Linked DNA regions of Homo sapiens: region 1 is linked to region 2. The links come from fine-mapping of genetic effects on gene expression. Tissue or cell type: cerebellum. Region 2 holds a variant in brackets; the other region holds the start of a gene. All regions are shown on one strand. Distances are between the middles of the regions.

What was found. PIP is the estimated chance that this variant, and not a neighbour inherited with it, causes the effect.
Region 1: RAB26 starts here. The variant in region 2 is fine-mapped to the expression of RAB26 in cerebellum (GTEx, PIP 0.93).

The regions. Positions count from the first base shown.
Region 1 is chr16:2,143,605-2,151,773 of GRCh38, forward strand. It overlaps RAB26 (RAB26, member RAS oncogene family), which reads left to right and starts at 5,021. Exons shown (of 9, transcript NM_014353.5): 1 at 5,021-5,374; 2 at 6,337-6,447; 3 at 7,965-8,006; 4 at 8,091-8,157. The coding sequence starts at 5,180. RefSeq lists enhancers at 1-268, 2,918-3,469, 4,022-4,573, 4,574-5,123, 5,124-5,675 and 4 more and silencers at 4,662-4,711, 4,722-4,991, 5,002-5,091, 5,182-5,351, 5,362-5,491 and 1 more.
Region 2 is chr16:1,171,276-1,179,444 of GRCh38, forward strand. All of the region lies in intron 2 of CACNA1H (calcium voltage-gated channel subunit alpha1 H), which reads left to right. Among named protein-coding and RNA genes, the nearest start is that of CACNA1H, 22 kb to the left of the region's middle. RefSeq lists an enhancer at 1,512-2,013. The variant G/C (reference allele first, on the strand shown) is at 4,038.

The DNA.
Region 1 (8,169 bases), 970 kb after region 2:
TGTTTGTCCCGACCCACCCGGTAGGGCCTCAGGGCCACCATGGTGAGCAGGCTGAAGGGGGGTGACCTCTCAGGAGGACACCAGACTGCTGCACACCTGGACACCGGAGAGAGCTTACCTGTGATGTCACCCACGTGCTGGGGTGACTCAGTGCTCCTCTCTCGGGTGGAAGTTGCGTTCAGTGCTGCCGCAGTTCCTCCAACGTCTCCATGGCAACGTTCACACGGATTTCATAGAACATAAGGTGTTTGAGCTGGAAGGGACCTCAGAGATCGGCTCCTCCTGCCCCCTCATTTCATGGAGAGGGGAGCAGGCCCAGACAGGGAATGCCACGTGCCCAGGGGCACATAGCAAGCCGGGGACCCCGCGGAGGGCACAGACCGCTGAGCTCCAGAGGAGGGTCTTGGGAGGTGCCCTGGGGGCACAGGCCGTGGCGGCTTTGCCACTCCCTGGCTTGCTAAGAGCCCCTTGAAGTCCAACCCAGCTCTCTGCTGCTCAGCCACAGAGCTCTCGCTCGAGTGCCTGGCGGGAACAGGAGTAGGCAGGACAGGGCCCTGTCCTCAGGAGGCTCCCAGGCTGCTACAGCGGCCATGCAGCCGCTGGGGAAGGGCTGGAGAGCATCCAGGGAGCCAGAAGTGGGGCAGGAGGAGCCAGGGCAGGCTCCCTTGAGGGTGGGGCTCCAGGCAGAGTCTGGAAGCCTGAGGAGGCCTCACTCGTGCCTGCGCCCCCTCTCCTGGCACACAAGGGCCAGCCCGAGGGCCCCACTCTGGGGGCAGAGTGTAGGGAAGAGGCTGGAAAATGGGGGCCAGAAAGAGACTGTCCTGATCCATGGCTCCCAGGGGTCGTTTTGGCTGGGGGCTCACAGCACACATCCTTCCAGACACCCAGGACGGTCAGAAGGAACTGGCAGGAGTTAGAGGGCACGGTGTAAGGATGCCAGGGGGCCGGGCCGTCAGAAGGTAACAGGAGCGAAAGTCCCAGAGCAAGGCCCCAAGGAGACCCAGGGCGCTCTCTCCGCTCGAGGACAGGAACCCGTGGAGACCTTCCCCTCCCTGGAAGAGCCAGCTCTGCACCAGAAGGGTGGGGGGCTGTAGCACCCCTCCCAGGGGAACACGGACCTCACTCTCCGCCCCCAGCTCCCAGGGCCCATCTCAAACTCGGACCCTGTCTCAGGGACCTGCCCTGGCCCACAGGACTCCTCTCTTCTCCAGGTCTGAAGATGCCAAGAATCCGGACATCCCAAGGCCTCCCTGCTGAACTTTCCCACCATGCCGGCCCCCGCCTTGCCCTCGCCGGCCCCCGCCTTGCCCTCGCCGGCCCCCGCCTTGCCCTCGCTGGCTGCCTGTTCTAGTTTTTCTAGTTTTATTTGTTGTTGTTGTTGTTGTTTTTTGAGATGGAGTCTTGTTCCGTCGCCCAGGCTGGAGTGTGGTGGTGCGATCTCCGCTCACTGCAAGTTCCACCTCCCGGGTTCACGCCATTCTGCTGCCGCAGCCTCCCGAGTAGCTGGGACTACAGGCGCCCGCCACCACACCCGGCTAATTTTTTGTATTTTTAGTAGAGACAGGGTTTCACTGTGTTAGCCAGGATGGTCTTGATCTCCTGACCTCGTGGTCTGCCTGCCTCGGCCTCCCAAAGTGCTGCTGGGATTACAGGCGTGAGCCACCGCGCCCGGCCTTTTTTTTTTTTTTTTTTGTGGAGACCAAGTTTCGCTCTTGTCGCCCAGGCTGGAGTACGATGGCGCGATCTCGGCTCACCACAACCTCCGCCTCCTGGGTTCAAGCGATTCTCCTGCCTCAGCCTCCTGAGTAGCTGGGACTACAGGCGCCCGCCACCACACCTGGCTAATTTTGTATTTTTAGTAGAGACGGGGTTTCTCCATGTTGGCCAGGCTGGTCTCGAACTCCCGATCTCAGGTGATCCGCCCGCCCCGGCCTCCCAAAGTGCTGGGGTTTAATCCATCTTTAACCCACTGCAGCATCCCACTGGTCTCTGCCCATGGGCATGGACTCTGACCCTCCCCTCCCTGCCTCCAGGCCTACAGCTTCTTTCCTGAAGGTCCTCTCTGTTCCTATTATCCCTCCCCTGGGTGACTGCAACCCCCATCAATCTCATCTCCAGGCCTACAGGCTCCACCATCCATCCCCTCCTGCCAGTCCCCAATATTCCTGTAGCACAGCGTCCTCTGTTGTTCTGCTCAAAAGCCACGCACAGCTCTCTACTTCCCGCTGTACAATTTCCAAGCTCCTAGGAATAACACTCAGGTTTCCCTTCCCAGCTGACCCCATCCTACCTTACCAGCTTGATTACCTCCCGTTTCCTCCAAGGAACTGGGCCACACTTTGGCCACCTCGGCACAAAGTGCCCATCTCCTAGCACTCTCAGCCTATGCATATTGACTCCCTCCACCTGGGGACTGTCTTTCTCTCTCGTGTCGGACTCTAGCTCAATCCTCAAAGCCCAGTGCAAACCCTCCCTCCCCCAGAAGCCTTGCCCTCACTACTGATCACACTTGCCTTAAATCTTTGTTAGCAAGGACATGTCCTCCTGAAGTGAGGCCTGTGTTTCTAAGTCACATTTCTTTCTCTTTTCTTTTCTTTCTTTTTTTTTTCCCCAGAGTCTCGCTCTGTCACCCAGGCTGGAATGCAACAGCACAATCTCAGCTCACTGCAACCTCCTCCTCCTGGGGTCAAGCGATTCTCCTGCCTCAGCCTCCCGAGTAGCTGGGATTACAGGCGTATGCCACCAGGCCCAGCTAATTTTTGTATTTTTAGTAGAGACGGGGTTTCACCATGTTGGCCAGGCTGGTCTCAAACTCCTGGCCTCAAGTGATCTGCCTGCTCAGCCTCCCAAAGTGCTGGGATTACAGGCGTGAGCCACCACACCTCTTTCACCAATTTAATAACTGCTTATGGAGGCCCAGAGCTGGCTGCTGGGGACAGCAGTTGACCAAGACAAGCTGCTTCCTGTGCCCGGAGAGCTTACACTCCAGAGGGTGAAACAGATGGCAAACACAGCAACCAAGAGACATAATGATCAAAGATTCCGAGGCCTGCTGGAAGCCAAGAGAGGGGTCTGTGATGCAGGCACCCAGAGCTCCCCATTTTCAAGAGAAACCAGAGACTTGGATTTTTATGTAAACTCTCCTAATTTTAAAGGTTGCCAGCGCAAGCCCGTTTCCTCTGCTCTCTCAAGGCTCCCCTCCCCGCCTGGCCTCCCACTTTCTCCAGCGCGCCTGCCTCCTTCTCTTCCTGGGGGCCCCATCCGCACTCCTCCCCCTGCAGGATGCCCTACTTGCACCCAACTCCTCCTGCTGCCCGCGCCCTGGGGGTACCTGAGCAGCAGCTGGCAGGACGGGGTCCACTGGACTGGGAGTCCACTGCCCAGGACCCTGGGGCCAGTGCACAGCAGCTGCTGAGGCCCCCAGCTCAGACCCTGGGCCAGCCATCCTGAAAGAGGCCTTGTAGCGCGGGTGGACACCTGGAGTCCCCAGGGCTGCAGCTGCAGAAGCTAAATGCCTCTACCCAGGCCCAGTGCACACACACTGGGGGTTGGTCTGGAAGAGCTGGGGGGCCAGAGGAGTGAGACAAGGAAGGGTTCTGAGAGGGCTTCCGGGTTTGACCCCCAGCTCTGCCAGGTTCCTGGGGATTAAGTCTACAGGGATTTCTGCCATGGGACGGTTTATGTTCTCTGGAGCTGGAGATCACAGGAACAAATCCTAGCTCTGCCCTTCCTAGCCTGCTGACCTTGCACAGGCTCCTTGCCTTTCTGGGCCTCGGTTTCCCCATCTGGACACTGAGGGCAGTACCCACCTTGCAGGATAACTTTGAAGAGGTCGTGTGCCTGGCACACAACAGTGCTTGCTGTAGGGCAGGCTTCCACGGCCTCTGCCAGGCCCTCTCGAGGAATCACTCTGCTGGGCAGTGCCCCCCATCTGTGTTTTCTCAGGCCTCTGACCCGAGAGGCAGCCAATTGTTTGGACTCTGGGCACTGCCAGCTGGGAGGGCTCAGGTCTCTGAAGGGCCCAAGGTCCTGGTGACAGCTGTCAGGTCTCCGGGGACAGCTGGGTCATCTCTCCAGCTCCCAAAGAAACACCAAGAAGCCCCTGCATGCCAAGGACACCACCCCTCTGGACCACTGTGCCCCAGCTCTGACCACTGCAGTCCCATCTTCTCTGTGAGAGGGGGTGACAGAGCTCCAGTGCAGCCCAGGTTGGGGAGGTGGGTCTGCCAGGGACCAGCTTAGGATTTGGAGAATCGGCCCTGGCCACCTGAAGGTCCGAACCTGGAGGAGAAGGACAAGGGGCCAGCCACACAGCCTGGGCAGGGGCCTCTGCTTTCCACCTTTCAGACCCTGAGGGCAGAGTCCCGTGGGAGGGGACCCTCAGGGGGCCGGGGGCTGGCTGCCACAGCGACTTCCTCCTTCCCGCAGATCCCCAGGCGTGCACAGCAGGCAGAAGCTGTGGGGGAGATCGCAGCGCCCGCTGTGTCCTCCCGGTGACCAGCTGTCACCTGAGCCCAGGGCGCCTGCCCCAGCAGCCTGGTGTGTTTGCCAAGCCAGGGCTGGAGCTTCCTGGACCCGCCTACCCTGGAGGGGATGGAGCAGTGAAGGGCACCGGGCCAAGCGCTAGGCATCTGGGGCTAAGGAGACAGAAGCCCGCGGTGCCCGTCCATGCGGGCCCTCTGCCCCAGCACCCACATCTCAGGACACCCCTTCCTCCCAGGTCTGGCGGTCCAGTTTGGGGGTCACCGAGCTGGGGTGGTGTGCAGCCAGCAGAGGGGATTCAGGATCCCGGGGTGACTCCTGGCCCAGGCCTGTCACCCCACAGCTGGCTCCTGGCCCCAAGGCAGCCACGGGCAGGGGTCGTGATCGGGGGCGGGACGGGGCCCGGACCTCCTGACCGCCCCCCACCCCCCGCCGAGCGGGGGTGTATTTGCATGTCCCCGCCCCACGCACGGCATTGGCGGCGGCGGCGGGAGGCCGGGCCTGAGTGGCTGCGCGCCCGTGGAGCGGCGGGGGCGGGGCGCGAGCCGGGCGCCCGGGATGATGCCGCCGCCGCCGCCGCCGCCGCCGCCGCCGCCAGGGGAAGGGTTCGGGTCCGGGTCGGGCTCGGCGGGCGCGGGGTGCGGGACGGCCCAGGGCACGGCGGCTGCAGCGGGAGCACACTGAGCGCCCGCCCGCCATGTCCAGGAAGAAGACCCCCAAGAGCAAAGGGGCCAGCACCCCCGCTGCCTCCACGCTGCCCACCGCCAACGGGGCCCGACCGGCGCGCTCCGGGACTGCGCTTTCCGGCCCCGACGCGCCGCCCAACGGGCCCTTGCAGCCCGGCCGGCCCTCGCTTGGCGGCGGTGTCGACTTCTACGACGTCGCCTTCAAGGTGAGCCAGGCACCCGCCCCCCAGGCCAGCGCAGCAGGTGGCGCCCGGCCTGAGCCAAGGGTTGGGGGTCGGACAGGGGGTGCAGGGCCCGCGGCCCCAGGGCGCGGAGCCGACGCGGGAGGAACCCCGTGGGGCTTGCACGGTGCATCGTGCACACACAGCTGTCCATCCCAGGTCTGGGGTATCCAACAGCTGGCAGGGCCTGTCCCCCACCCCCCAGGCGGCATGGTGGCACAAGGGGTCCCGCGCCCCAGTGCCCTGGCCCCCGCCCGGGGTCTCACCATTTCCCGTATGCTGCCCTCCCTCAACCCAGCGGCTGTGGGCCTTTTTTTTTTTTTTTTTTTTTTGCTGGGGGGAAGAGGTTTGCCAGATGGATGGGGAACCCTGGGACTCCAGACCAAGGCAGAGGCTGTGTGGACTTGGCAGGGGGCTGGGAGGACCATTTTGGGTTTGGTAGCACAGGTTTCGGGGAGAAGGCCTGACTGCTGCCCACTTGCACCTCCCCCCAACCTCAGACTTGGCCCAGGTCCCTCTTCAGATCGAGATCTGATCCTAATGGGGCAAATTCCTCGAGCCTTGCTGGGGTCATGTCCCTACTGGGATGTGGAGAAGCCCCCGGCAGAGGCCTCCCCAAGTCTCTTAGGAGGTACCCAGCTGCCACCCCACCTGCTCCCCTCCCAGATGCTGTCCACCGTGTGGGGGTATGGACGTTAGGGAGGGTCCGGGATGCAGGTGGCTGCCCTCACTCCCCGCTGACTGAGACGGCCACTGTGCAGAAGGACAGAGCAGCCCCAGCCTTTCAGAGGCATACGCTGGGTGTCCAGCCCATCGGGGTCCCTGGCCCCGCTGAGCCTGCAGGCCTGGGCTGCCTCCCTCCACTCCTGCTCCTCACCTGCAGCCCCCTTCTGACCAGGCCAGCTCAGGGCAGACCAGACTCCCCCCAACCCTCCTGCTTGTCCTAGGTCATGCTGGTGGGGGACTCGGGTGTGGGGAAGACCTGTCTGCTGGTGCGATTCAAGGATGGTGCTTTCCTGGCGGGGACCTTCATCTCCACCGTAGGCATTGACTTCCGGGTGAGTGGAGGCCCTGGCCTGGCCCCACATCAGAGTCCCGCCGGTACCCGAGCAGCAAGTTCTCTCTGATCCCCATGGTACCAACAGGCTCGAGGCCTGGACCCCAGAAGCTGCCTGCCTCGACCTTCCAACACCTGGGCTGGTGGCTGCACCCGACAAGCATAGTTAGTTGCCCTATGCCAGGGGCTGGCATTACCGAGGGACCATATCCTGTGCCTTGGGGGAGGCGGACACTGTTGCCTACAGGGTGGTGGGTCAGAGGAAGTCAAGGGCCACGTCCACTTGGGGCCAGCAGTGCTGCCTCGGTACAGAGGCCTTACTGGGCCCTAGAAGCACATGCTCCCTGCAGAGCCTGAGCGAGGGTTTCCAGGGCTTGCCTAGGGGAGAGGACCCTGCTCTTGGGTGAGGAGCGCCCACCCCCACCCCCACCAGCTGGAATTCCTCGTGCTGAGGTGCCGGCTTGTCCTCAGCAAATCTTAAATTTGCATTTTTCTCACCCTTTAATTAGAGCCAGTTAGAGGGAGGATGGAGGAAGGGCTGTTCCAGGGACAGGAAAAGGGGCTCCCTCCAGTCTGGGGGTTCCAAGTCCCCTCAAGTCCTCTGGGATGGAGTGACGACTGAAGTGCCCGAGGGGGGCAGGCCAGTCCTGTCTGGTCCCCACTTCCCCACCTCCCTCTTGGCTCTCGGGCAGGTGGTAAGAGGTGAGGCCATTTGGTTCGCACTCTCGTTCAGGGTGCCAGGGAAGGCGGTGTCCTCCCCAGCCCAGCAGATGGCCCTGCCTGGTTCCCGGGAGACCCAGAAGCACTCTGACAGCAGGAGCTCAGGCTGAAGGAGGTGGCACAGGTTCCAGCTGCCCAGGGCCTCAGACTGCGGCTGAAGCCCCCCGCCCCCACCCCAACAGATGGGACTGGGGCTAGACCACTCCCTGCCTTACGTCTAATCGTTAACTGGGAGGGCCCGGCTGGGGACGCTGCCAGGCAGTTCTGGGATCTGCGGTTACTGCCTTGGGTCAGACAGGCCCAGGCCCAGCCCTGACAATCCCAGCAAGGAGTGGCTTTAATTTTTTATTCTTTTGAAGCAGGGTCTCACTCTGTCGCCCTGGCTGGAGTGCAGTGGTGATCATGGTGGACTGCAACCTCCAACTTCTGGGTTCAAGCCATCCTGAGTCTTTCAAATTAGCAAAAAGAGCTACTGGGAAGGCTGAGGCGTTGCAGCTCGTTAGTTACTGCACCCATTTGCAGATGAGGAAACCGAGGCAGTGTCAGTAAGAGGCCTGGTGGGGTCATGAGTTCAAATAAGTCAGCGTAAGAGGCTCTAAGCAGGAATAGTGCAGAGGCTGCCGGGAGAGGCCTGCACTTGCAGGTGTGGGTGAGGTCAAATTGGCTTAAGGGAAGCCTGCAGGGGCTGGGCTGGACCTGGGAGCTGGGAGGTCTCAGGGGACAGGAAGGCAGTGAAGCTAGTGGGACCAGAGGCTGGGCTGGGCCCATGCCAGAGCTGCCTGGTTCTGTCTGTTTCAGAACAAAGTTCTGGACGTGGATGGTGTGAAGGTGAAGCTGCAGGTAAGGTGACTGGCAGAGGACAAGTTGGGGGACAGGGGACACCAGGGAAGGGCTGGACAGCCTGACCAGTGCCTGTCGCTGCAGATGTGGGACACAGCTGGTCAGGAGCGGTTCCGCAGTGTTACCCATGCCTACTACCGGGATGCTCATGGTGAGCCCCTGG
Region 2 (8,169 bases):
GCGGGCTGGGCGTCTGGGGGGATCGTGGGGCTTTGGGGCTGTCAGCAGCCCAGGGGGGTAAGAGGACGAGGCCCAGATGGGCCAGTGGCCCTGGGGACAGGCTTTCCTTAGAAAGTCACTGGGTTCCCGGGCAGAGAACCCCCGCAGCCCACTTTTTGGCCCTGGGCTCTGACCACAGAGTCTGCAGAGCCTGGAGCCCGGAGGAGGCCCGCGGGAAGCTTCTGGAAACAAAGGTCGAATGGAGATGGGGGTCAGGGTGGGTTTTATTTTCCAGGCATTAAACTCCCTTGGCTGCCGCAGAAAACCAGAGGCGCCTCAGGCGGCTTTTGTCCCTCGGAGCTGTGGGGTTCCCTCATTTCCAGTTTGCCAAGGCCGCCTGGGGGCTGCCTCCGTCCTTCCCGCCTCCTGGGCCGTGCCTCGGCCCACAGAGACCACCACCCTCCCTCCCTCCTGGAGTCCCTGGAGCTCTGGGCAGCCTCCCACCGTCCACAACTTTGCCACCCTCTCAGGCTGGGCAGACACTACCCCCAACTCGGCTCCGTCTCCGAGCGCCAGCTGGGTCTGAGGCGTCTGTTCTGGGCTCTTCTCGCCCACAGACGAGAGGGTCAGGGCAGAGCCCAAGGCCAGGGAGCAGTGTCCACGGGTGGGGGCATGTTCACAGGCCAGGCGGGCGCCAGGACGGACGCTGGGGTCCAAGTGCGGCATGGGGTTCGCGTGGGCCCCCCGCCAGGTGCTGTGGAGTCCGAGTGGGTCGGCTCAAGGTCCTGGGGTCCCCAGCAGCCTTCACTGAACTCTGAAGCCAGCCTGCAGGTGTCAGACGTCACCGGGATGATGCTGGGGTGGACGGGGCCCCGGGCCGCAGGGCGTGGGCCGCACACGGTGGGTGTCAGGGGCGAGAGTGGCTGCGTGCCTCGATCCGGCTGGCCCAGGGCGAGTCTGCCTTTCCTGCCTGACCCCGCCCCTGGAGCTTGGCAGGGAGTTGGGGCTGGGGCTCCCCCCACAGTGCATCACCGCAGCCTTGCCTGTTGAGTAGAAAGGAGCTCGGGGAGCCAGGCCGTGCCATCCCCAATGTTCCAGGCTCTACCTGGGCCCCTCTCACGCCGTCCCTAGGCTGCCCCCAGGCGTCCTCCCCTCTTAGACGGTGGCAGCGCGGCTGCCCTCACCCTGCCCTGGGCCTGGCCCGCCTCCGTCTGGGGTGGTCGTGGGGTCCCCAGCAGGACACGTAAGTACCTGTGTGTTGTCCCGAGCATCACCCGCTCTGTGGAGGGAACCCCGAGGCGTGGGAGCAGTGGGTAGTCTGCACTCCACACCGCTGGATCCTAGCAGGAGCTCCCGGCTTCTGTAATTAAACGATTTATTATTAAAGCAGCCGCTTTCCCATAACCGGCTTCCTGTAGCCACAGGGGCAGAGCCACCCGCATGGGTGTGGGGCAGGGAGGTGCATGGGGTGAGCTGGGGCACCCTTCTCCCCGGGGCACCCAGGGGCGGAGTGGGCTGCTGCTGCCTGGGTGCCCCCGAGGGCTCCTGTCCAGGCCCAGGGCTGTGGGCTGGGAGGACTCACGGCTTTGCTCCTCCGAGGCGGGGCAGGGGCTGTGATCAGGGCCAGGACAGCCCCGTGGGGACTCTCGCAGTCACTGGCCCTAAGCCTTGTTGGTCCTCGGCAGCTGGCCCCAGGGACACCAGGTCCCTGCAGGTGGGTGCTGCCTGGGAGGGAGGGGAGGGGTGGGGCCAGAGTCCCAGGGCCGCAGACCTGCCCTGGGTGTGGCGTGGAGAGCCCTCTGTGTGGCCATGGGCCTGGGGAGCTGGGAAGCCCAAGTGTCCTTGTGGATATTGGGGTGTCGAGGTGTGGGGCAAGTTGGAGGTCCTAGCGTGTTTAAGCAGCTGACGGGCGCGAGGTGGAGGTGTCCAAAAGGCCGAGGCTGGAAGGGGGCAGTAGATGGGGTGCTGGTGGCCAGGCAGGGAGGAAAGGGGTGCGGAGCTTTGCAGGGGTTTGGGTGGGTGGCATCGGGAGGCCCAGCAGGCAAAAGGTGGCCAGAGCCCTGGGGTAGTGGGATGCCCTTCCGGAGTGTGGGATGAGGCGTGCTCCCCCACAACCTCCAGAACAGCGGCTGCGCCTCCAGGCCTCGGGCCCCTTCACGCTGGTGCGGACGGACGAAGCCCAAAGCCTCTGCTCCTGGGTTCTCTCTCTCGCTATTTACTTTTTTAGTATTTAACATGAAAAATTTTAAAAAATTGTTTACTAACTTAACCACAATAATAAGCCCTTTGTGTGTTAACATAACACGTCCTTTTATGGAAAAGGTTATATTTCTCAAAACGTTAAAAACTCAGTGAGAAGAGGGGCTGTGTTTTGCAGTTTTGCAAGACCCTCTGCCTGGCCTGGTGGAAGCATCCGGGAACGCCCGTCGGAGGGGTGAGGGAAGGAGGGTGGGGCTCCCCGGCCGCCGTGCTGAGAACCACTGGTCTAAACCAGCAGGCTCACCCCGGGAGAATTCCCCTACTCCTGAAAGGCTGTGGGTGTTGACCTGTGCACACAGTGGGGCCTCACACCACATGGGAGTTGTGGACATTAACCTGTGCACACAGTGGGACCTCACGTCACGTGGGGCTGTGGACATTTACCTGTGCACACAGTGGGGCCTCACACCACATGGGAGTTGTGGACATTAACCTGTGCACACAGTGGGACCTCACGTCACGTGGGGCTGTGGGCATTGACCTGCGTGCACAGTAGGGCCTCACATCATGCGGGCCTGTGGAAGTTGACCTGTGCATACAGTGGGCCTCCTGATACGGGGAGCTGTCACCTAGCTGGCCTCACAGTCCATGCAGCTCTGAGACCCACCACAGAGCCGTGGCCCCTCAGATGAGGGGACTGAAGCAGAGAGTCTCCAAGGAAGGGCAGAGGTCCTGGCGGCCTCAGTTTGCTCCTCCCTCTCATGGCACCCGGCTGAAGTCTCCTGTGGGGCTCCTGGGTTCAAGGCCACCCCATGGCCACGGGCCAGCTGCCTTTCTCTCATTTCTCCTGGAGCGCACCCTTGGTGGGAGCTAGACCCCAGAGCCCAGGATATGGAGGTAACTAATGTTTCACAGCAGCCAAGCATGAATTTAGCCCATTGCTGCCAGGATGGGGGGCTCCATCTCGGGGTGCTGGCATGAGGCTTTCAACAGCTGCGGTCAGCACAGCCCACCTGGCCCAGCCTGGACTCTGCAGGGTGGCAGCTGGGGTGTGGCCATGGGGAGGGAGGGAGGGAAGGAAGGATGGGGTCACTGTAGCTCTCGAAGGGAAGCCCCTGCCACGCTCAGGGCTGTCTGGGCCCCTCCCCAAGCAGGGGCAGAGGTACCTTCCAGAACACAGCAGAACAGCGTGTGTCCAGCCCCCAGCTGGGAGAGGAGAGGCGCCCAATGTTAGTTTAAAAAAAAATGACTCAGACAGTTCACAGAGCCTTCCTTTTCCTGCTGGCTTCCAAGAATTCCGATCTGACTTAATGGATCGAGTCGTTGGTGGATCGATTCAGACATGGACGAGAGCCAGGATGGCCGAGTTGGCGTGGCCCTGGCCTCGAGGCTCCCCGGGGCCCAGGTCTGCAGCCAGCTGGCGGTGGGCAGGCAGGGGGCCGGCGGGAGGCCCCCACCCGCACCTTCACCCCCAACCCCCACGTCCACCCCCCCACCCCCCACCTCCACCCCCACCAGCCGGGCCTGGCCATGGCTCCGTGGTGGGTCTCAGGGCTGCATGGACTGTGAGGCCAGCTAGGTGGTGGCTCCGTGTATCAGGAGTCCTACTCTACGCACAGGTCAACTTCCACAGGCCCGCGTGATGTGAGGCCCCACTGCGCGCGCAGGCCAACGCCCACTGCCCCACGTAATGCCCTACTGTGCGCGCGGGCCAACGCCCACTGCCCCACGTGACGTGAGGCCCTACTGTGCGCACAGGTTAATGTCCACAGCCCTTATGTGGTGTGAGGCTCTACTGTGTGTGTAGGTGTGCCTACCAAGGGAAGCCCTCCTGCATGTGGGGTCCCCTGCTGGGTTCT[G/C]GGGAGCCCCGGGAGGGCCACTCACCTTCCCCGCAGGTCCCTTTGGTAGTTTTGCATTATACAGGCTGGTTGTGGGGCAGGGCTTTGAGGGGGTTGACAGGAGACAGGGTCTGGGGCCCTCAGGACTCCCCACTGCTGTGTCGTCGCTCCTGCTGGGCCCTGGCCTGGGCTGGATGCACCCCTGCCCCTCCACCCTGTAGCCTCCAGCTCCTAAGCACCACCCACTCTAGGTCCCCGTCTGCTCGCCGTGTCCCGAGCTTGTCCTTCACTGTTGCCGTGCCCACTGCTGACAGCTGGCCCCGTCCATTTACTCTCATGTCCGAGAATCTGAAGCGGTCCCTGACACACACTAGTTACTCCGCAGATGCCGGAGGGAGGAGGAGGAGACCAGATCTCCTTCCTAGAGGAAGATCCTGGGAGTGGGTTTTGAGGGCTGCGTAGGAGTGTTCCCAGGCTGGGCAGGTAGGTGGGCAGTGGGCGTTGCAGGCCGCGGGCGAGTTGGGCTGGGCTTGGGATGGTGCGTTGAGGGGCGTGTGCCAGTGGCCCCTGCCCGTCTCGGGCAGACCTTGGGCTGCCATTCCTCCTGCCCGGACCCCCAGTGCAGGCTCTGCAACAGCCTGGAGTTTGACCCCAGTTCCTCCGTCTGGACCTGGCCTGGGGGCTGCCATGCTCCCAGGACATCCTGGTGGCTGCTGGGTCCCAACCCCGTTCGTGGAGGCGCCTCCCACTCCCATCGCCCAGTCACAGGACACACCGTGTCTAGCGGGCTCTGATCTTTACACCTCATCGCAGATTGGCTTGCATAATGGCTCAGCTGGGTTCTAGACTTTGGGAATTTCAGCCTAACCCATTAAACATAAACGCTGTGTGGTTACAGATGCTGTGTGGTTAGAGATGTTTGTGCTGGAGCTGCCCTGACTGTCGGTTCTGAGCTTGGAGCTCTAATTAGTGCCCGACGGGGCATCTCACCCACCACGGGAGGGCAGGGGCGAGGCGCAGCAGCAATGTCTCGGAGCTCCCCTGCCCATCCTTGGGTCCAGCTGTGAGGACAGCCAGGCATGGGTCTGGGAGGGCTGTCCCCGCAGAGTGGGGTCGGCCGCTCCTACTCTCGGCAGCACCAGGGTCTCTGCATGGACCCCAGCTGCCGTCTCTTTCTGCAGGTGGGCATGGCAATGACCTGTGGCTCGGGCTGAGGAGGCCTGGGGCCAGTACTTCCCCCCATGCTCAGAGGTGACGGGCCTGGGCTGCTGTGGGGATTCCGAGAATGGAATCTGGGTCTCAGGTGACCCCCCAACCAAGGGGTTCCGGGTTTGTCTGCACAGGCCCCGGGACCAGCCACTGTAGCAGTGAGCAGGGGGCTGATGGGGGTCCGGGGGCCGGCTGGGCACCAAGTCTCTGTGACCCACAGGGGATGCTCATGAAGCTCAGTTTATCAGCCCAGAAAATGATGGTGCTGGGAGGGGAGCGGGGCCGCCCCGCCGGGGAGCTGCCTCTGTCCTGCCTCCCCTCGGCCCTTCCCCCGCGTCTCTTCACCCCAGGGGACGGGGAGGGGGTCCTAAGGATGATGTGGCTTTCTGAGGGCTGAGTGTCTGCTACGGCTGCTGTGAGGATGTTCCGTGGACAGGGTGGCCTGGGTTTGGCTTAGGTGGGGGCAGAGTCCCCAGGCTGGGAGGAGGCGCTGGAAAAGGCCTGGGCAGCCTCACTCCCTCCCCCCAGGAGCTTCCCCCAGGCCCTCCGCACCTTCTCTGAACCCTACACTGAACCCCAAAGGTCACTGACTTCACAGGCTGCCACCTTCAGGTGTCTGTCCTGGGCGGCCCTTTTTGTCATTCCACTGACATTTACAAAGGACATCTCGGACTCTCGGACCCTTGGATTTCTAAGTGACACAGGCTGGATGGAGTTTGACTCCACCAGGGGCTGCTGTCCCCCAGGCCTCTCCCAGGGCCGATCCCCTCCAGGGCCGGGTCCCCTGCTGCCCGGGCCTCAGCCCCGGCTCTGACATTTACACACTGCAGCCGCCGGCACCCTCGGAGACAGCCTGAAGTTCAGGGCCGAGGGCCCTCCTCATGGTACGGTGCGGGGACGGCGTCTGACCGAGGCCCACCCTGCCGTCGCCCCGGAGTCCCCCAAGCTGGCACAGCTAGCGGCTCACGGTCACACGTCTGTCATAGGTTTGAGGGCTGAATTCTGACCGGGGCAGAGAGTGGAACGAGCTCCAAGTGAGAAATGGGGTGTTGGGGTGGAAGGGAAGGGGCCCCCCAGGACAGGCTTGGGAGGGGGCGTCCTAGTGTGCTTGGGCTGTGACAGAAATTCTGAGGACGTGGTGGCCGGGGACAGAGGGAGTGTGTTTCTCGGTTCTGGAGGCTGGACGTCCCAGGGAAGGGCTGGGCAGGATGGGGCTCCACGGGGGCCACTTCTGGGTGCAGACGCCTGCTTCTGCCTGTGTCCTCACCTGGTGGGAGGTGGAGGGGTCTCTCGGGGTCCTTGTTACAAGGGCATTAACCCCATTCCTGAGGGCTCCGCCGCTCCTGACCTCACCTCATCCCAGTCACCTCCCAAAGGCCCCACTGGGTCTCAGCGTCTGAACTCCATGGGGACACAAACTCTCCGTCCCCAGCAGGTGCCCGGGCTGCGGGCACCGCCCTTTCTCCCTGGGACCCCCGGGGTCTCTCCCGCCCCCTCTCCCTGAGGCCTCCCCCACTCCCTCTCCCTGGGGACCCCATGGTCCCTCCCCCACCCCGGAACCCCCCCCCCCATGGACTCTCCTGCCCCCTCTCCCTGGGGCCTCCCCCGCCCCCTCTCCCTGGGGACCCCATGGTCACTCCCCCACCCCGGAAACCGCCCCCCCATGGACTCTCCCGCCCCCTCTCCATGGGGCACCTCATGGTCCCTCCCGGCTCTGCCTGGGATCCCCCAACGGGCTCTCCTGCCCCGGCTCCTTGGATCCCTCCATGGTCCCTCCCGCCCCCTCTTTCTGGACCCTCCCCCACGGCCTCCCCAGCCGCCTCATTTACGGGCTTCTTCTGGTGCCCCCATATTCATATCTCAGAGTCCTAACCCACCCCCGAGTCCCCATATTCATATCTCAGAGTCCTAACCCACCCCCCCAAGTGCCTCAGAATGTGACTGTATTTGGAGATAAGGGCCCTTTCGAAGGGGGTTAGGACTAGGTGAGGCCACAGGAGGACACAGATGCAGAGGGGTGACAGTGGCGTCTACAGGCCAAGGACAGCAGCCGCAGGAGGAGCCGGCCCTGCCCACAGCATGGTCTCGGACTCCAGCCTCCAGGCTGTGGGAGAGTGAGCGTCTGTTGCTTCAGCCGCCGCCATCCAGCAGACCAGCATCCAGCCCCAAAGGGGCCACACTGTCCCTCGGGTCCCTCCCTGACCCCTGGCCAAACCTGGCTCACCCCCGGCCAGGAGCTCCTGGGCAGGTTGGGCCCAGATGCCCCTGCCCCTGTCTCCTCCAAGCTCCAGAAGTCGGGGTTGGGGTGAAGAGATGTGGCGGAGTGGCCGGGGCAGGCAGGTGTGGCTGCCAGGGCAGAGGAAGGACCGAACGGTGGCATCTCCCCAGCAGGGTGGCCCCGCGCCCTTGCCAGCCCCGGAGGACCAGATGGTGGCATCTCCCCAGCAGGCTGGCCCCGTGCCCCTCCCAGCCCCACCATTTTCCTCGGGATAAACTGAGGCTCTGTGACCTCTGTCAGGTCACAGAGACCCTGTTGGGTGGTGAATGGGTGACCCGTGGACACCAGGCTGTGGCGGGTGTAGGGTTCAGCCCTCCCTGCACACTGTTACTCAGACCTGCCTGGGAAGCAAAACCACAGCAGAGCCACCCCTGGCTGGGCCTGGCCGTCGTCTCCCCAGGAGTGAGAGCTGTGCTTTTATCTGACGCGCCTCCCGGGACTGGTGGAAGGGGTGTGTGGCGGCCCTGTGGGTGGGGTTTGGCCTCAGGGGCTCCTGGGTAGGGTGAGTTGGGGGTCCCTGACCTCAGTCACCAGGCTGTGGTGGACGGAAACCCTGGCTGACCAGGCATCGGGGATTGGGGGCCCCCCCATGGACTCTCCTGCCCCCGCGAGGTTGGGGAGGTGGGAGAGCCGACCGAGCCGCTGCTGAGTGGCTGTTCCGTCCTC